Linked DNA regions of Homo sapiens. The protein of the gene in region 1 interacts with the protein of each later gene in a pairwise test. Each region holds a gene or a part of one and is shown in the gene's direction. Other genes may lie near its edges.

Region 1 (3,820 bases):
TTGTGCATGTTATCTGCTCTTTCTGTTAGTGCTCTTAACATTTTAATTATAGTTTTTTAAAATTCCCTATATGATAATTCTAAAATCTGTGTCATACCTGAGTCTGGGTCTGATGTTTGCTTTGTTTTTATGTATTTTTTAGCCTTGTAATTTTTTAGTTGAAAGAGAGATATTATGTATCAGGTAATAGGCTTTTATTATGCGGCCTTATGTTAATTTGGCTAGGAGCTGGGTTGTGTTTAATGCTTATTGTAGCTATAGGTGCCAGAGACTTCAGTTTCTCTAGTGTTTTTTTCTCTCCTTTCCTATTGTCTTTGGGTTTCCTTATGAACTCCTTAAATAGGTTCTGTGCCTTGTAGCTCTCTCACTTATAATCTTCTGTTATTATACTGGAGCCCTGTTGATGTGGTAGTAAAGTGTTGGAGGAGAATCTGTTTATACTTTTATGATTAAATCTTATTCTTTTAGTGGCCTGAGCCTCTGGACTGTGGCCTTCAGAAGTGTTTCTTAGCCTTTTCTCTTTCTCTCTTCTTAAGTAATACAGAAAGGCTATAGACAGCTGGAGTTGGCTAATTTTCTTCTCTCAGGTCAGATAAGGCTCTGACATCTTCCCTTGAGATGGAGGGAATAATCTAGGTATATTTTAAAATGATTACTTCTTTCCATCCCCCAGAAAGAGGAGGAGATTTTTCTTGGCTCTTTACTGTGAGAATCTGGTGGGGTTCCTGGAAGTAAAACTCATGACAGTGTGATAGCATCCCCAAGACTGGGTCCCGAGGATGAAAACCCATGAAAGTGTGGTAAGCATCCCTAAGACCAGGACCTGAGGAGGTTTTTATTCTCAAGCTAGTCCACACTCATCCTTTAGCAGTTTGTCGGAGTTACTGCTTAAGTACTTCTACTGGTTTATGACTCCAGCAGCTTCTGCATGAGGTGATTTGATCTTAGCTGTAATTTTCTTAATCTCCTTCTTTCTCCAGTTTTCTGAGTGGCAGTTTGCCCTGTCACTTCAATTCTCTGAGGAATCTAAGAAAAGCTGTTGATTTTCAATTTGTTCAGCTTTTGTTCTTATTATAGGGTGGGAGTGATGACCTCTCATGTGAGAGGGAAACCTGGAAGTCAATAGTGGCTTTGGAAATGGCAGTTTATTTTTCTTTCACACTAATGTAGCCAGCCCAGGGCAGATATGGCAGCTAGCTCTGTGATCATCTGGGACCCATGATCCTTTTATCTTGTCACTCTGCCATCTTCAGTATGTATCGTCCACCTTGTGTTTGGAAATGGCTTATCCATCTCCAGTCATCACATAGTATTCCAAACATTCTGCAGGAAATAAGGAGAGAGAGAGAAAGAGACAGTCTTTTAAGACATCCTTTTAGTTTAAGGATACTTCCTAGAAGTTGCTCTTGCCACTTTTGCATAAATCCAGGCCTACTAGACCCCTGAGTTTGCATGACCAAACATACCTGCAGTGGAGGTTGGGTGATACAGGTTTAATCTGGATATGTCATGGCCAGCTAAAAATGCACAGAATGGAAATTGAAGAGCAATTAGCAGTCTCTACCACAACAGTGTTCCAAGGCTTTCCTCAGATTATGAAAGGTGTCTGTTTCACAACACAGCTTAAGAAAACTCTGCTTTACAAAATTGCTGTGAGAGTTGTGGTCACAGCATGTCAGTACCCGGTTGGCACTGGCACCAACATACCCAGAATATTTAGCCCAAGCTGACTTGCATTCAGTCACTCACATGTCCTGAAGGCTTACCATGGCTCAGATGTCAGGCTGATAATAAGCTAATCCCTCCCTACCCTTAAGGAGTGCCCAGTCTGGTATTGTAAATCTCCAGCTCATTGCTGGACATGGTTGCAGCATTTTTAAAGAGTAGGCATCCTGTGTTTTTTGTCTTATCTGGCTACAGGAGCAGTGATGCATAGCTGTGAGGGTATGGTAGAAGCCAGTTAGCATAAGGTGTGGTGGGGATAAAAGGGTGCTGGGCCCAACTCTGTATGATTTTTTTTCCCTGACAGCTTCCCCAGCCAGCAGATTGTTGCTGGATCAAGTGGGCATGAAAGAGAATGAAGACAAATATATGTGTGAGTCAAGTGGGTTCTACCCAGAGGCTATTAATATAACATGGGAGAAGCAGACCCAGAAGTTTCCCCATCCCATAGAGATTTCTGAGGATGTCATCACTGGTCCCACCATCAAGAATATGGATGGCACATTTAATGTCACTAGCTGCTTGAAGCTGAACTCCTCTCAGGAAGACCCTGGGACTGTCTACCAGTGTGTGGTACGGCATGCGTCCTTGCATACCCCCTTGAGGAGCAACTTTACCCTGACTGCTGCTCGGCACAGTCTTTCTGGTAAGGGTCTTTCTGGACATTTCTTCTCTTCCTTGCCTTGAGGGACTATAACATAAGACTTATTCCCACACAGCCTGGGTCTTAGCTGGGGACTGAAGGGGAAACAGAGAAAGCTTGGACTGGAAGGACCAAGCTGGAGTCTGGCCTAGCTCAGCCCCAGAGTCAGCAGTCCAGCCTAGGTCCCTACACCTGGGCAGATGATGGTCTTAGTAGGTGGAGAGTGGTGACTGTAGTCATCAGGTGGAGCAGGGCTATTTGTCAGCTCATGGCAGCTTCAGGGTTTTGGATGGTCCATATGGCTTGAAATAGGAAACCTGCCAGTTGCTAGGGGAATGGGGACAGTATCCTACCCGTGTTCCCTGAGGATAAGGGGCTATCAGGGGCCAGGGACCAGTCCTGCTAGCAGCCCTTCTAATAAGGCTCTAGGTCCACTGTAAACTGTTGGCTGGTAGAGGCTGACTCAGTAGTCTTGTCTTTTTTTTTTTTTTGAGATGGAGTTTCGCTCTTGTTGCCCAGGCTGGAGTGTAATGGCGTGATCTCAGCTCACCACAACCTCTACCTCCCGTGTTCAAGCGATTCTCCTGCCTCAGCCTCCTGAGTAGCTGGGACTACAGGCATGCACCACCACGCACGGCTGATTTTGTATTTTTAGTAAAGATGGGGTTTCTCTATGTTGGTCAGACTGGTCTCGAACTCCTGACCTCAGGTGATCCGCCCGCCTCAGCCTCCCAAAGTGCTGGGATTACAGGTATGAGCCACAGCACCCGGCCAGTAGTCTTGTCTTATGGGCTGTGTCCCAAGATGGGGAGGGCTACAGTAGAGTGGTTCTGCAAATGCTCAATGCCTTCCCCAGGCACACTGGATCCTTAAAACACAGTTCACGGCAGACCCACTCCTGCTGGTGGGCTGGGGCTTTTTGAGCTCATATGCCTTGGTCATAGCTCTGGTCTTGGGTGTGGGTGGCTCTGCTGGTAAAATGCATCTCCCTGGGGCTGAGAAGAGTAAGGAAGGCAGGGAGTGACTGGGGCACTGAGGAATGTGGTCAGGCAATGCCATATGGGGCCCAGGATGATCCTGGGGAGAGAGGAATTATTCTTGGAAGTTAGGACTAGGTGTGTGTGTGGGTGGCATGTGCAGGGATGCAGGGAGGGTATGTGTGTCCATGGGGAGTATGAAATGGAAATATACCTTGCATGTATGGTACGAGGGGTTGTCTATGTGGTATGCACATAGGGATAGAAGATGGTGTCGTATTACACAAGGTTTGAAGATGAGGGTAGCACAATTATGTGGTACGTGGTGTTCATCTTCCATATTTTTGGCAAGTGCTACATACACTGTTTGATGTATGGAGGTGTATGTGATAGGAATGGAGATGCTGAGACATGTGGCAGAGGGCTGGTGGTTAAATCTCTGACAAGGAGGATGACACAACCACACAGTTCCCAGCAG
Region 2 (3,820 bases), on another chromosome or scaffold:
CTTGCTTTTTCACCATGATAGTAAAAGTAGATAGTTTTGTTTCTTTTTTTTTTTCTTGAACATCCATACCTGGCAAAATGTATAATTGGTAATTCTATATAAGTTACACCCCCCCCTAGTTTTTTTGGACATATTACTGGTCCACGAAACCTGAATGTCTAGGTGCCATTGGTATCGTGGGAACAACATCGGCTCTGAAAGCAGACAGAACTGAGATTGAAGACCAGCTCTGCCACTTACCAAGGCCAAACAGCAGTTCAGCTTTTCTGGACCTTAGTTTCATTATCTGTAATGTAGGAATAATCATACTTTGCCAGGTTATTGTACAAGTTGAAGAAAATCTTTTTTCTTCACAGGACTAGCCCCCCATAATGGTGGGTGTTGAATAAAAGGTGGTTACCAACACCCCTGGGGAAGTTACTTAACCTCTTTGTGCCTCATTTGTGGAATGGGATGCTAGAAGTCCACCTGGCGTAAAGGATTGTTGTGTAAGGATGAGATTATATGCATACAGGGTGCTTCACATATACTAAGTCCTCCTTGAGGATTAGCTGCTATTGATTATTTTATCATTATTGTAAAGATTTCAGCTACCATTGAGAATTTACAGGTCATCCTTTCTTTGTGGAGTTTTTAATCATGCATGATGGTTATGTCAAAACTCACAAACAATGATGGTATTAAAATAGTACTTGCAAAATGTGATCAGTGCTTTGAGGAAGGTAAGGACTTGGCCTGGTACATCATAAATATTTATTAGAGTTTGTTGACTTAAAAAAAGAAAGCCAGAAAAGTCTTTTGACCTCTAGAACCTTAAACTGTTCCCTTGCAGTTCTTCTTTTTTGGCATGGAGAATTAATTATCTGCAAACTTCTTCCTTCGCCAGAGCAGCTCTTTCACAAAATAAGGCTTACCTAAATTCTATTTTTTTTTGAGACGGAGTTTCACTCTTGTTGCCCAGTCTGGAGCACAATGGTGCGATCTCAGCTCACTGCAACCACCGCCTCACAGGTTCAAGCGATTCTCCTACCCCAGCCTCCCAAGTACCTGGGATTACAGGTGTGCACCACTACACCTGGCTAATTTTTGTGTTTTTGGTAGAGATGGGGTTTTGCCATGTTGGCCAGGCTGGTCTCAAACTCCTGACCTCAGGTGATTCACCCACCTCAACATCCCAAAGTGCTGGGATTACAGGTGTGAGCGACTGTGCCCAGCCTAAATTCTTAAGCCTTCTACCAAATATAAGAGAAAATCCAGGAGCTGGAGTGGGATTGGGTGACCTGTGGATCCAGTTGCATATTTACCCCGCTCCATCTGTGGTTCAAATGCTCACCAGGCTACAGCAGAGAAGCTGGACTTATGCATGCTGGTAGTAGGTATCAGTAATATGAAATCAGGATCCAGTTTTATTTTTATTTTTATTTATTTATTTTTTGAGATGGAGTCTCGCTGTGTCACCCAGGCTCGAGTGCAGTGGCACGATCTTGGCTCACTGCAAGCTCCACCTCCCGGGTTCACGCCATTCTCCTGCCTTAGCCTCCCGAGTAGCTGGGACTACAGGGGATCCAGTTTTATTTACAACCTTACATATCCATGAATTGGCTATAATTACATGTACAATCAGCATAGCCAAGGACAAAGTACTATGATAGTTAGCTCTTCTCTTCCTTTTCTTTATCTGTCTGTTCTCTTATCTTCTTCCTTGGCTATTCACCAGGTTGGTGGAAGAGGAGGTTCCCCAGCACTGGCCACTGACTGTGTGCTGTACTACTTTTTTTTTTTTTTGAGATGGAGTCTCACTTTGTTGCCCAGGCTGGAGTGCAGTGGCACGATCTTGGCTCACTGCAACCTCTGCCTCCCGGGTTCCAGCGATTCTCCTGCCTCAGCCTCCTGAGTAGCTGGGACTACAGGCGTGTGCCACCACACCCAGCTAATTTTTGTATTTTTTTAGTACAGATGGGGTTTCACCGTGTTGTCCAGGCTGGTCTCGAACTCCTGACCTCATGATCCGCCTGCCTCAGCCTTCCAAAGTGCTGGGATTACAGGCTTGAGCCACCGCGCTTGGCCTGTGTGTCCTACTTTCTACTTGTCCTTAGCATCACTCAGGCACACTGTTTCCCCACTACCCTACTTTACCCAACTGCTACGCACCTGTCCACATACATGCTGTATAGATTGTTTCCTGGATGATCCTTTGACCTCTTACTAATAACAACCCTTACATAGCAAGGGTGCTATGCAGATGGTTCATTAATCAATTTATTCTCATTCCATCTCCCTCCTCCCCATCTCCTTATGCTCTGTTCTCTCCGTAGATTAAAATATAAAACAAAGAGGCAGCATGTTCCTAATTGGATTGTTTTCCAGATTTACAGAGTCTCTGGGAATATTCTGAATTCGTACTCCCAGTATTGTTTTTATCAGGATTCTAAGAAGTGGCAAAGTTAAGTCAGCATCTCAAGGTGGAGAAGTCTGCAGAATGTTTGGTGGAAAAGCCATGAGCTAGGGTTGAAAGAGCTGTCACCTAGCATGGCTGTTAACCCAGGCAAGTGACTTAGCCATGCTCACCCTTAATTTCTGGTCAGCAAAACAAGAGAACTGGGATCTTTAAGGCCTCTTCTAGCATCAACTGTGTGGGTTTCTGTTCTTTGGTTACTCATCTACAAAACATAGTCATCAAGTTTTACTGTTTCTGAAACTGATGTTCTTTGTTAGCTCCTTCTTGACGTAAGTTTAAATCTGTAACTAGTATCTGCTGATTTTAAAATGTACCTTTATTGTTTTTATTACAAAAAATATTATACTTTCTACTGATACATTTCTCATTAGTTATTACCAATGACTCCTCTTTCTCTTCCTTATTCTATCCTGTCTCATCTCATTCTTTATAGTTAAGTGTTAATGGTTGGTAGCTAGTATCTCAGACTTTTCTAGGCTTGAAATATATGCATATGTAAACATAAAATTCCTTTGACTATAAAGGGATTATATTATACATATGGTTCTGAAGCTTGTGTTTTTATTAATTAGCAGATGATAGAGACAAACATTAGGAAACAATATTCAGTGAAACATCAGTCTCTCTTATACCCTTAATCCTCAGTTGTCCTTCCTTAGAGGCAATGTTTATATATCAGAAATTTTCTGTGTGTATATACACACATATATAGTTAGGATTTTTTTTTAACAAAGTGGGAGCACACTACTCACTGTTTAGCTCCTTGCTGCTGCTGTTTTTTTCCCCTCCTTTGGTTTAATGTTATATTTTGTAGATTATTCCATGTCAAATAATTCATGTAAACACTTAGTAAGTGCTCAAAAATGTTAATTATCATTATCAGCCCCCTAAACAGCTTTCCTATTCTTTTTTTAAGGCTGCAAAACATTCCATTGTTTACATACACTAGTTACTTATTGATATTTCCAATGTGGCTATTATAAATAATGGTTCAGTGGACATCCTTGCTTCTAAGTCCTTGTAGGACTGTATCTGAGGAAGAAATGTCTGTTGAAAGACTGTACCTTTTATATTTTGTTAGGTATTTAGAAGGCAGTCTAGCAGTTGGTTGAACCTGTTTGCATTCCTATCAAGAATGTATGAGGTGGCCGGGTATGGTGGCTCATGCCTGTAATCCCAGCACTTTGGGAGGCCGAGGTGGGTGGATCACTTGAGGTCAGGAGTTCGAGACCAGCCTGGACAACATGGTGAAACCCCATCTCTACTGAAAACACAAAAATTAGCTGGGCATGGTGGCATGTGCATGTAATCCCAGCTACTTGGGAGGCTGAGGCAGGAGAATTGCTTAAACTCTGGAGCTGG

The links.
Region 2: the proteins of NCR3LG1 (region 1) and STX8 interact in binary tests that used the Homo sapiens proteins (3 or more experiments, as listed by UniProt).

The regions. Positions count from the first base shown.
Region 1 is NC_000011.10:17,364,980-17,368,799, forward strand, and holds part of NCR3LG1 (natural cytotoxicity triggering receptor 3 ligand 1 precursor), read left to right. Parts: intron 1-2,029; coding exon 2,030-2,368; intron 2,369-3,820. UniProt on the Homo sapiens protein: Triggers NCR3-dependent natural killer cell activation.
Region 2 is NC_000017.11:9,548,189-9,552,008, reverse strand, and holds part of STX8 (syntaxin-8), read left to right. Parts: intron 1-3,820. UniProt on the Homo sapiens protein: Vesicle trafficking protein that functions in the early secretory pathway, possibly by mediating retrograde transport from cis-Golgi membranes to the ER.